Linked DNA regions of Homo sapiens: region 1 is linked to region 2. The links come from fine-mapping of genetic effects on gene expression. Tissue or cell type: fibroblasts. Region 2 holds a variant in brackets; the other region holds the start of a gene. All regions are shown on one strand. Distances are from middle to middle.

Region 1 (6,166 bases), 230 kb after region 2:
ATCAGTGCAGGCGGCTCCTATTTCTGCCTCTAACACCCTGTTGGGCAGTAATAAGATGTTAAAGGCGACAACAGAGAGAGAAGCTGGGCTGTCAGCTTCAGAGAGGAAGGGGGTGAAGGGTACAACAAGGAAGAAAAAGAAAGGGAGTTGAGGGGAGATCAAAGACAGGCAGGAAGAAAGCCAAATTGCTAAGAGAGGAGATGTGGCTTCAGGAGCTTGGGACCCTAAGGAAAACCCCAAAGCAATGAGATTCAAAATTGTGCCATCCCATCACCCCAGCTAATTGAATTATTGAATGTCCCACGTGGAAAAAGCTAGTACAGTGAAAAATAGCCCATACTCAGCGTAGGCAGAGCCCTGCATAGGTGCTGCTGGAAATCTGAGCTTGTTTCTTCCCAACACATTAACTACCACCACTTTATCCCCCCATCCTGAGGAAACCTTTGTGTGACCATTTTCTGTAGGAGACGTCCGTGGTGTTGGCTTTTTTTTTTTTGGAGGGAAGAGAGAGACTCAGAACGCACACAGAGAAAATGCTAATGTCGTTCAGCTCTGTTTCATTGTCAGGAGGGACACATGAGGATAAAAACATAGCTCTCCAAACCATTCTCCCCGCTACCCCTCCTCCCTGCACCACCACCATCCCTTCGGCTGGATGTGTCTCTGCACTTTGTTCTAATTTATCCCATGCATAATTTATTCACGTGTGTATTGTTTCCTGATCAGCAACTTTTAAAAACAAATGAAATATATAAGATGTTTTATTAAACAAGTTATTTTTAAAAAAATAAAGGCAGATGGTGTCCCTCTCCCAATAACAACGTGTGTGCTCCTGCGTTAGGAGTTGTCAAAAACTGTCCAGGGTGTGAGAGGCTGGGCTGGTCAGTGGTATTGTTTATACCCCTTTACTCACAGGGAAAGGGTCTGGGAAGCAGAAAGGAATAGCTAATTATAAATGACCAAGCAACTCCCACCTAGAAAAAGCAAGCAGGGGCGTTGTGTGTATGCTAGTGTCTGCATGTGGGTGGCAACACAATTACAAATACATCACGTTGCAACTGTTTCTAATTATACAAAGTACAATTCAGAACTAATTCCACTAACCGGCCAGAATTCCGCCACCTTCTTTCCCGCGTCTGTCCCTTCCCCCACCCTTAACCCCACCCTACACAGACTCCCTCCCCAAACACGCACCCTACTGTGATCCAAAAAACCCTGGAGCGAGTAGGGGAACACAAGCTTAGAGATACTGCGCCCGCCCGCGCGAAAGCGGGCTCCCGGGTAACTAGGGTACGGCTTTCCCAGGAGGAAACAAACCTGGTGCACATGTGAAATAGGTTCTCTAACTTGAGTTTACCAGGTGGCATCAGCCCGGTTATGTGATTTCGGCTGGAAATGGGGAAACTGAAAATCAGTTGTGGGTTCGGTAGAAACAGCATCAGCGGTGTTGCAGCGAAAGCAACCGGCAGCGAGGATGCGGCGAAGTTACGCCCATTTATTCTGCCATAAAACATTTTCTTTCTTGGGTGAAACGCTGTGGCGTTCAAGCGCAGTGTATCCGAGCTTCCGAGCCAGAACTGAAGCCAGGAGCTCCTATCTGATCAGCCTCAGCTTCCAACGTCCTCTTAACGGCAGCTTTCATATAAATATATTTGAAACCTGGGGCCTTCCTACCCCTTTCCCTATTTCTGATGGGCGACGAGCTGGCGCAAACACGTCCGATTCTCCCTGTGCATTCCTTTGCGTTAGGAACCCCCTACCGTCCCCGGGAGCGAACCTGGTTTTCAACTCCAGGAGTGGCCAGGGGTGAAGACGAGAATGCGCTGAATTAAAAGAACCAGGGTCGACAGCGGCCACGCACCAGGGAGAATTCGGCATGAACCGCCCCCCACCCGACCTGCACCTCCCTCTGCCACTTCGCCTGCGGCTTCGTCCGGGCGGGGAAGTCCCGGTCGAAGGGGTGAGGACCCCCCAGCCCACCTCGGATACGGAGGGAGCCACCCTCTGCCGACATCACCCAATAGCACCCCTTTCAGAGCGACACTAGTTTTCCGAGGCCACCCCTGGCTCCGCGATCGCGAGCGGACTTGGCGGCTTAACAGTTCCACTGACTGGAAGGAAGGAAGGAAGGAAGGAAGGAAGGAAGGAAGGAAGGAAGGAAGGAAGGAAGGAAGGAAGGAAGGAAGGAAGGAAGGATGAAAAGGAGGAGGAAGGCAGGCAGGCAGAAATTGGCTGTTGGACCCGGGGCTGGCCCCCGCGAGTCCTCGCCCGGCCCGCCCCACTCTGTCCAGGATCTGGGCAAGCGCTCAAAGTCTCCCCGAGGCGGCCAGAGGCACCTGCCCCTCGCCCGGCCGGGAGCAGACGCTGCCCCCTCGGGCCAGGAGCCCCAAAACCGCCTCTCCGCCTGCCTCAGCGCCTCACCCAGAGGTGGCGAGAACACCATTCATAAGACCTGCGGCTTCCCTGCCTCCAAATCCACCCCAAGTTAACCCGAGTCGTTAATCCACTAAAGCCAGCTCGCTCGCAAATACACGAGCAGACACACGCTCGATCGCCCGGAGCGCCTCCGAGATCCGGGGGCTGCCGGGGAAAGCCCGGGGCGACCACCTGGGCCCCAGCACGCCCGGGACCCGCTGCTTCCCCCGCGGTGCTCCAACTCCGGAAGGTTTGCACAAACTCCCCGCGAGCGATCGGAAGGCGAAGAGCGCCCTGCAAACTCCGGAGCCTCCGCGGTCCGTCCGCTGGACCCAGCGGACCCAGCGGCGGGGCGGGGGCCGCGGGCTCGGGGGCGCGGGGCTCGGCCAAGTACACCGAGGCGGCCACTGCCCGACGCTCGCCCCCCGCCCAGCAGCCCCCGAAGCCGCGCTCCCTGCCCGCGAGGCGGGGGACTCCGGGGACCGCGCCGTCCCCGAGCTCCCGCGACCCTCCTGCTGTAGAGCGCTCGAGCGCCGGGCTTCTCCGCCTGCAACCCCTATATCTGGCTCTCTCTGCAATTTAGCAGAACACAAATGTAACAATTTTCTTCTTGTTAATTGCATCTCCTGACATTTCTGCGCGTTGGGGGAAAAAAAGAAGATGAAGAAGTAAGAGCTGAAAGAAGAGAGAAGCCCCGCCGCGGCTGGAGGCGCCTGCAAGCGCAATGCTCTGGCAGCGCTCGCCACGCAGAAGGCGCCTTTTTTTTCATATTGAAACCACGCGGAATATGTACATTTTTTAGTCTTACTTACGCTTTCAGGGGGTTGTGAATGACAGTCGCCATTTTGCTACAATGTAACAGAATATTGTCTCAGAGTTCTAAAGGTTCGCTCAGGGGAAGCGACGGGCCAATCACAGCGCGGGATACCGGCCCGCCGGCCAATCGGCGCTGCTGGTAGCTAGGTGGGCGGGGCCTGCGCCGTGGTAGTTATTAGGAGAGCTGTCAAAGCCCAGAGGTCACTCCCTTTTGTAGAGCCCGAGAGCCAGCAGGTCTTAAAGGGGCAGTACAGCGCTGGTAGCTCCTTTTCGGGCTGGGGAAAGTGGAGACGCACGGGAGAGTATTATAGTTTGGTTTAACTCCCTACTTTTCTAAATAACTGCAGAAGAGTTTGCGCTCCCGGACAGAAATATTTAAATATTGCCAGCAAGCCACTGAATCCTATTCATTAGCCTTTGGCTTTGCGTATCAACATTTTTAATCCCCCAAAGGGTAAATCCCCGTGTTTCAGTGCAAAAGTTGGAAGGCTGCCGTTTCGTGTTAACAAATTACTACATGTGCTCTGCCGTTTGCTAATGCTCTGGGTCCTGCCGCTTTTTAATATTCTTATTCCCGAAGTGTTCTCTTTATCTCGGCCACCTTCCTCTCTCGCTTCTTGGAACTGTCGCTGCTGTTCCTGGCGACTCCAGGACAGCAACTCACCCTCCCCCTGGAACGTCTCAATGTCAGGCTCGCTCCCTCCTGCAGCCAGGGCTTTCCTTACGTAGTGCAGGGGGGTTACTCTGCGCGGTTCCCCGCTACCACCCCTTCGGTTCTTCCCTCTACACCAGAAACTTCCAAAATGCTCAGATTCCTGCTAGGTGGTGGGACCTGGAGCTCTGATCTTTAGGCTTAGGGGTAGGGAGGACTTAAGGCAACCTTTGGAAACTTTCTACTGCTAGGAAGCAAGTGACTAGGCAGAAGTTGTAGAGCCTGGACTGGGTGTTATCAGGGTCCCTTTAGAGGAGTGGCACACGCGATTCTGGCGTCACCTTTCACTACTTAGATAGAAGGTGGAAAGAATTTGCTAATGAATAATCCGATGTGACCCGAGGCGTCCAATGAGTCTGTGTCTGCTTCAAGTCAGTGTGAACTCTTCACTGGCGAGCCCCTGACAAAATTGGGAGACTTCTGCGAAGTCAGGCTTCCACTGGGCACCGGGAAGCTCTGGGGGGATGAAATCGCATTAAATCGCGAATAGGGTAGGGGCCTCGTTAGCATACAGAAGTCTGGCTACCATTCCAAAGCTGTTTAATCAGATCAAATAGCTAAGATAGTGGGGGAGGGGTGGCAAGGGGAGAGAAGTTGCCAAATTGCCAGTTCTTCAAAGCTATGCCCTCTCGCTTCCTTTTGCTCCTCTCAAGACAATGAATAAAATAAAATAAACATTCCAGAATTTTAAGAGTTCAACTACATACACTATTAGATTTACAGATAAACAGAACGTGGCTGAATCACTATGTTTTTAAAAGATTTGAAATCTTTAACTCCTCTCTGCGTATTTAAGAAGCAGAATTGAGTTCTATAGATTCCTTTGTAAATCCTTTGCATAGCATCTTGGCAGAGATTACAGTTTGAAAAAGTTATCTCCTTTTCCAAAATTGAAGTTTGAAAAATCCCTTCTTTACTAATTTGACAAGAAATTGGTTCAGAAGCCTATACTTTGCCTGAGGTGGGCCTTGACATCATTGAAAAGCAAGAACTGTATTCTGACCCAAGAAGTATGAGTTTGAATTATCAGTTAGAACTCCCAATAACCTCTTTGAGGTATCAAAGACACAACAATTCAGATTAGTAGACGACAACGTATTTTCTTACATGCAGCCTGATAAAGGAGGAAATGTAGAGCATGTCCTGAACAAGATTTACAATGGGGGAAGAGAGAAAAAACAAATGTATATTACATATTAAAGAAAACACATACTCTAAGCATGTACATATCATTTATTGTGTTAAGGCCTGGATGCAGAAACCAGCATAATCTCTAACTACCTAACGAACTTGAAAATGTCAGATCAGATTTATTGATTGGATTGGAAAATAGTGAATTAAAGACAGTACTTTAAAAAAAAAAAAAGGATAGCCTTGCTTTTTGTAACCCAATGGAATGTCATTTTAACTCTATCAATACAGTTATGACTTTTAAAGAAACACTTATATTTAACAAAAGAGTTATTTTACTTTAATGTTTACATTATAGATCAAAATATAAAGATTTCTTTTTTTTTTTTTTTTTAACCAGAAGGTTCAAAAGCAAAGAGTAGGCATGTTTAAAGAGGACAGTATCCTTAAACAGTTTTGGAGAAGTTTGGCAGTTCTGGGGCAATTTCATAGTGCTGTACATGGCAGAAGTATGAGCTCTGGAATCTACCAGCCTGAGTCCACTATTTACCAGCTGGGTTACCTTGGGCATATTTACTTGCCAGGATTAAATGAGGTAATACATGTCAAGTGTCTGACACACAGCAAGCTTTCAATCCATGTTATTATTTCTTACAGAGATAATTAATTCTTTCCTTACGGCATATGGAATGTAGGGAATCCAAAAAACAAGGCACAACAGAAAGTGAAATTAGCCATCACATTTAGTTTTCTAAACTCATTAATCCAAGAAAAATGAGCAAATGGACAACTTGGATTAGAATAAAATAATAAATAAGAATGATGTTTCAATGAGGGGTCACATAACTATATAACCCTAAAAAAGGCTTCTTGCTGATTGTGATACCAAAACACTTTTTAAATTTTTTTTTTTTTTCTGAGACGGAGTTTCACTCTTGTTGCCCAGGCTGGAGTGCAGTGGTGTGATCTCAGCTCACTGCAACCTCCACCTCCCGGGTTCAAGCGATTCTCCTGCCTCAGCCTCCCGAGTAGCTGGGATTACAGGTGCCCACCACCACGTCCAGCTAATTTTTTGTATTTTTAGTAGAGACA
Region 2 (6,166 bases):
TTAATGAGGCTAGGCCAGGTGCAACAAAAATCAGGGTAGTGTGTCCAGCGCCTTGAACTTCAGCAGCATGAGATCAGCCAGGAATAGGGCAGGTCAGTTGCTACTGGGCCAGAGGCAGAGAGAACACAGCTGGATGGTCAATTCCCAGGTGGTGTAGCAGGCAGAACTGGGTGTTAGCAAAAAAAAAAAAAAAAAATTCCCCTCCACTTAGAAACCAAACAAACTGAATCTTTTCACAGTTAAAACACCCCAGAAAGGACCTTTATGATGTCATCTCTCTCCCTGCCATCCAAGTAGAAATGAGTAGTTCTATGGTATAGAACCAATTCAGCCACAGAAAACCCCATCAGATGCCTCATTTGGCCTAAGCCCAAAAGGACACTGCTTCCTTCACAAGCACTCACACTCAGCCCCAACCCTGCCCCAAGTGATTCAAGTGTGTCAGAGTTACTCGGAGACAGTCCCCAACCAAGAGACCAGTTCCAGTCCTCTACTAGCACAGTGATCCCTTTGTCAGCCTTGGAACCTGGTGGTGGTTCACACAGGTGGGCCCTTTTGCCTGGATAGCCACGCATAGCTTTTGCTTCTAGCTGAAATGAAATCTGCCATTTTGGTCTTTGGAACGGAGTAGTTGACACAAAGGAGTGAGCAATGAAACCAAGTACTGCCACATTTCACCCCGGAAGCAGTTTCTGAAAGCAGAGATGGGTGTCCCAACAGTGCCTAGATCACATTAAGCTGAGCGATAAGGGAGGGAGAAGAGGGAGAATGGGCCTAAATGGAAAATGGCCAAGCCAGCAAGGAAAAAAGCTCAAAAGCAAATGAGCAGCTCAGCCTCTTCCAAGTTGAAAGGCCCCTCCCCTGCCCCACCTCTCCTGGTACCCAAGCATCACTCAATGGCCAGGTGCACAGGCCTGGATTAGATGCTCTTCCAAAGCTGAGACTCCATTCATCCAACTTTCCTCCTTGACCAAGTCCTCCCTCCACACCTGCTCCTGTTCCTTGCCTCTACCCCATCCCACCCCACTGTCTCCCTTTCTGATCCGCTTTGCTGGTGCACCCTACCCCCACTTCCCTCATGCTCTTTGCTGTCACCACCTGCCTCTAGCTCCTTCCCTTGACTGATCAAACCCAGGTGACCTTTCCTGGGACCTCCCACAGAACGCCTGCCGATTGTTCTCTCCATGGGCATCTGTCATCATTTCACTCCCTGCCAGGAGTCTTTCTGTCCCTCTCCCAGTGCCCTGACCCCTCTGGTCAGATGTTACCTGCCACTCTGTAGTGAGTCTGTCTCATAAGCTTACCCCACACCTTTCAGTTTCTTCAAATTTCCACCCCGACCTCCCAACACACACACACATGTATTTTTCCTTTGCCCCACTAAAGCCACCTAGAAAATCATGCGTGAGTCCCAACTTGGCACTCCTAACTTCCATTTTCTCTTTTGTTTCCTCTGGTCAGGTCAACTGCAGGCCACAAAAATGAAACAATGTGCAGCTGTGTTCTTAGTCTCCTGCTCTCAATCCCCTGCAAGAAGGCATAGTTTTCTACCCCTCCACACACATGGTCAACCCCTCCCCACCCCTGTCCTGACATCCCCCTTTTCTCTCCTTTACCCCTCACCACCACCTCACCACCTCCCACCTGCCCCCTCTGACTTAACCACTGGATGCTGTGTCCAGAGACTTCTCCATTCTTTCTGTCAACAATATTTATTAAGCATCCTCTATGCATAGAGTGAGATTTGGTAAGACTTCCACTAATTATCTCAGAAACTGCTCAGTTCTCAGTTTATTTCAACAAATAATTATGGCACACTGGTGTCAGGCACTGTCTGGAGGATATGAGTGATATCACCTTTGCCCTCAAGGAACACGCCATCTGTTTGAGAAGGACTACAAGCAAACATGATGTGTTGTGATAAGCACAGGAGCGGCAGGAACAAAATGCTATGGAATGGTACTTAGGCGGGTTTTCAAATGGTGATTTTTGCCATTTTACATGGGTTAGGTTGTGATTCCCAGCTTTGCTTTTTGTTCGAATATTATCTCCATTGTCTCTGACAATAGACATTCTTGCCTACAGATTCAACAGCAACGGTCCATCTGGAGCTCTTTGTTGATCTAGATGGCTTCCTCCAAGAAAATCTTCTTGTCTACTGAGATCCATGGCAAAAATAATCACATACTACCCCATGACAGCTCTTACATGATTTTAACTATTTGTGAATTTCTAGTCTGATCCACTAGGTCACAAAATAAATCCAATGGCCAATAAATTCATTGCCCCATGTTTAATTTTATCCTATCCTTGACAGTGCTGAGCAGTCACACGCATACTGTTATTACTCAGTCCCTAGTTGCCAAATGAACCGAGGTATATCTGAATGAAAATGTTATCATCCAAGGTCTGTAAACAGAATAGCCTGAAATCTCAGCTGAAAGGCCAAATGTCTGAGTCACCAGTAATGGGGTAAATCAATCACATACCTCC[T/G]GATGTAATGCACTGAGAAGGATACAACATCATTTCTAAGGTATTCTAACCAAAATGCACAACTTCAGTTTAGTCATTAGAAAAACAGCATCCAAGCCTGAACTGAATGGCTTTTGCTATGAAATGACTAACCAGTATCGAGGTTGTGAAAAACAAGATTGTAGTACTAACTATTCCAGATTAAAGGACTTGTAAGAGGACATGGCAACCTGTGAGCCCAGACTGGATCCTGGACCAGAAAAAGGACACTAGTGAGACAACTGGCAGAATTTGCATAAGGTCTGTAGGTTATAGCATTGCATCGATGTGAATTTCCTGATTGTGATCATTGTACTGTGGTTATTTGAAGAATCTGGGTGAAGGACATATGGGAATTCTTGGTAAAATCTTTGTAAGTTTTTTGTAAGTGTAAATTATTTCAGAAGTAAATTTTTTAAAAAGCCATAGTTATTGGTTGAGTTCCAGTGGTGAGATACTTTGAAAACCTAATTGCCAATGTTTTTTATCTAATAATTCAGTTCTGACAGGAATCTTCCATCATTCCCATTTATTTTGTAAACCAATCATGCAGAATGGCTTTTCCTATATTGCTATTTTGAATAGGTGATCAGAAATCACTTTTATTAAACACCACAATATTATATAATTCAATGTTTTTGTGTTAGAAGCAATTGGGTTTGTGACCAGGGCCCAAAATGTTCACTCCCTGCCACCATTACTCCCGCTACCACTGGCACCACAAAAACAGTGACCATTTAGGAAGCTCAACTTTAGTTCTCCCAGAAAGTTCATGAGGACTTAGACATTGCTACTTCTCAGAAAGATTCTAATGTGTCATAGTTTCATTTGGGGTTTCTGTTGTTTCAGTTTTTTCTTTTACAGAATCAAATACCTCCTTTTCATCCAATAAATTCTTGAATAAAAGACCTACAGGCATTTTACTGATTTCACTCAAGAAATCTTCCAAAGATGATCTTTGGGGAAGTCAGTATAGACTTAGGAAAGATTATTAGAAGATCCATACATCATTTACTGAGCCTGGAACTTTAGACAAGTCATCAAACAGGATCAAATCTCAGTTTCCTCATCAGTAAAACGGGAATAAATAACATCTACCCTACCTCATAGAGTTAAGCATCATCATGAAATAATATAAGCTACATATTCTAATAGGGAAAGAAATGTCCATTTCCTCTCTCAGAAACTGAGGCAGAGATCCCTGTCAACAAATTCACACAGGGAGCTGAGCCCAGAGCCCAGAACTTGTCATCTCCACTCTAGGCTTCCACACACCAGATCAAAGACACCTCACTCAGAAAATACACAACACAAGTCACTTCTCCTCCAAAGGCTGAGCAAAATCCCCTGAGGAAAAATTCCTAACAGATGAGTCTGCTCCAATTTTAAGTACACGTTCAAGATCATATTCATCAGATGTAACAGGAGGTATACTGGGATAAAATTAATTAATTTTATTCCACCATGAGGTGAGAACCCCCAAACACCCTTTAGTTCTCTCCCTGAGTAATGATCTTGCATTCCCTCCAGTGCTGTATAAAGCAGTATCAGTCTGTAGCCCATTAGATGCAGAGAGAGATGCAGAGTAAGCAGGAACCCTTAAAGGGATGCTATTGATGTGAACATCACATTTTTTTTTATTAAATTCTTCTCTCTAAAATACCGGTAGCAAATTGGATTACTGTCTTTATAGTACCTCTAAAAAATTAAATGCATATTTCTAATTCCCAGGGTCATAGTGATTATAGTGTCTGATCTTTACATAGTCTCTCAGTAACAGAAATAAAGGATTTGATTGTTCTAGGTAGGGAAAAAAATCAGCTAGACCATAACAATTGTCACCTTTAGGTCAACAGCCCCCCTCCCCAGGGGATTAAAATGTTGTAACAAATTTAGAAAGTTCTATATCTTTGGTTCCCCTCTCTTTGGCCTGGGACTCAGAAAACTCAGGGTGGTACTTTACTGAGCTGAGGGCAAAGGAAGCTGGCCAGATCGTTTTCATCTTGATGACTCTAATTTCTTTTGTATTTTAAATTTTGAGTAGTGATACTTATTTAACAAAAGCAACAACAGAAAGGTGTGTTGACTGTTCACACAGCTCCTACAATTCCTAAGGTCACAAAAAAGGTGATCTCTTTGTACATTGTCTAGAAGTGATGATTAAGAAGGTAAGTTATCTACAATATTCCGCAGAGAATCTGAATTAGAACTCTCTTTTACAGGATCTAATTGCTTACTCTTCCGTTGTTGAAATTTCTTTTAATGACGTTACCTTTTAAAAGCTATATTCATTACAAAAACCCTTTTCTTCAGTTGGAATTGAGAAACAGCAAAGTATGTATACATGCATGCATATATATTCCTTAATTATAGACTATGCAAGGGGCAATGCAGGCAACGATAGAGTATAGGCTCTACAATCAGGTTGCCAGGGATCAAAACCTGGCTCCTTCCTAGGTGTACATTTCTTAACCTTATTACTAACCTCAGTTTCCGCAAACTGGGGATTAATATAAACACCTATCTCATGGGAGTAGTCATGAGGATTAAGTGAAATATTCCAAGGAAAGCGCCCAGAATAATGCCTCACACAAAAATGTAGATGACTGCTATCTAGAAAAAGGGAGATAAAGATATCACATCCACCACTAAAGTGGTTGGAAACCAAGGACAGCCAGCTTCCTCATCCGACACCTTCTCTCTCGGAGCTTCCTTCCTTTGCCTTAAAACATTTCCCTCCAATGCAATGCCCATCCCAGTCCCTCCAACTTAACTCACTTAACCTCTCTGGGTCAACTTTTCTCAACTGAAAAGTGAAAGATTTGAACTTGATCATCTTAAAAGTCCCTTCCAGTTTTTAAGGGTATAAATCTTGAGTCCGTTCAAAGACTCTATAAGCAAGGTGAGACAAGATGGTCTGGCCATGCTAAGAAACCTTACTATGCTTCTATTACCCCAAGGAAGAAAAGTGAGGATATCAACTACCTCCAAGAAGAGAAACTGAAGATCAAATATCAAGCTATACTATTAAATATAAAATAGACAAGCAATACCCATTCTCAGATAAACATTCTCCTGGGAGTTTGCCTTGTTAGTTCTAAATGGTTAGTTTCTCTGTTAGACTCCAAGCTAGACTCTGAAATTAGGTAGCCTTTTATAATTTGCTTTAAATATGTGGATTAAAAAAAAAAACACCTCAAGTGTAAAGGCAAATTGTCATTGAGAATTCTGGGACTATGAGCAACTAGACAGAATTCAAATGAGAGTGTAGATTGGTTGAACATATGTTTATTAACATAGAAGCTCACATTTTATCAATGAAAGCAAGTTGTAATCCCATGAATCCAATATCTGAGTCAAAGGTACAGAGTAAAGAGGTGGAAAATGACAGCAAGTGTACATTGTATCCCCGTAGCAGAAACCTACTGGAACAAACTCTATTGGCTGACGTGTGAGCATGCAGAATATGACAACCTTGGAGGTTTATGCCATATTTCCTAGGAACAGGCCACATATAGATTAGACAGAACAACCCAAAAGTGGTTGGGATTGTTACTTTCATTCCCTCAAAACTGAGAATAAATGCCCAGGCGATCACATACACATCTCAAGCATGAGAAAAGTGGAAGCCCTTTCTGTCTCAGGCTACCAGGAA

Alleles and levels. Positions count from the first base shown, and alleles are read on the strand shown. Sizes are in standard deviations (SD) of each study's normalised expression.
As copies of T replace G in region 2, the expression in fibroblasts of the gene that starts at base 3,272 in region 1 goes down (large effect, 0.86 SD a copy in GTEx).

The links. PIP is the estimated chance that this variant, and not a neighbour inherited with it, causes the effect.
Region 1: it holds the start of DPF3, and the variant in region 2 is fine-mapped to the expression of DPF3 in fibroblasts (GTEx, PIP above 0.99).

The regions. Positions count from the first base shown.
Region 1 is chr14:72,890,830-72,896,995 of GRCh38, forward strand. It overlaps DPF3 (double PHD fingers 3), which reads right to left and starts at 3,272. Exons shown (of 11, transcript NM_001280542.3): 1 at 3,228-3,272. The coding sequence starts at 3,259. RefSeq lists an enhancer at 3,232-3,526.
Region 2 is chr14:72,662,989-72,669,154 of GRCh38, forward strand. All of the region lies in intron 8 of DPF3 (double PHD fingers 3), which reads right to left. Among named protein-coding and RNA genes, the nearest start is that of MIR7843, 150 kb to the left of the region's middle. The variant T/G (reference allele first, on the strand shown) is at 2,494.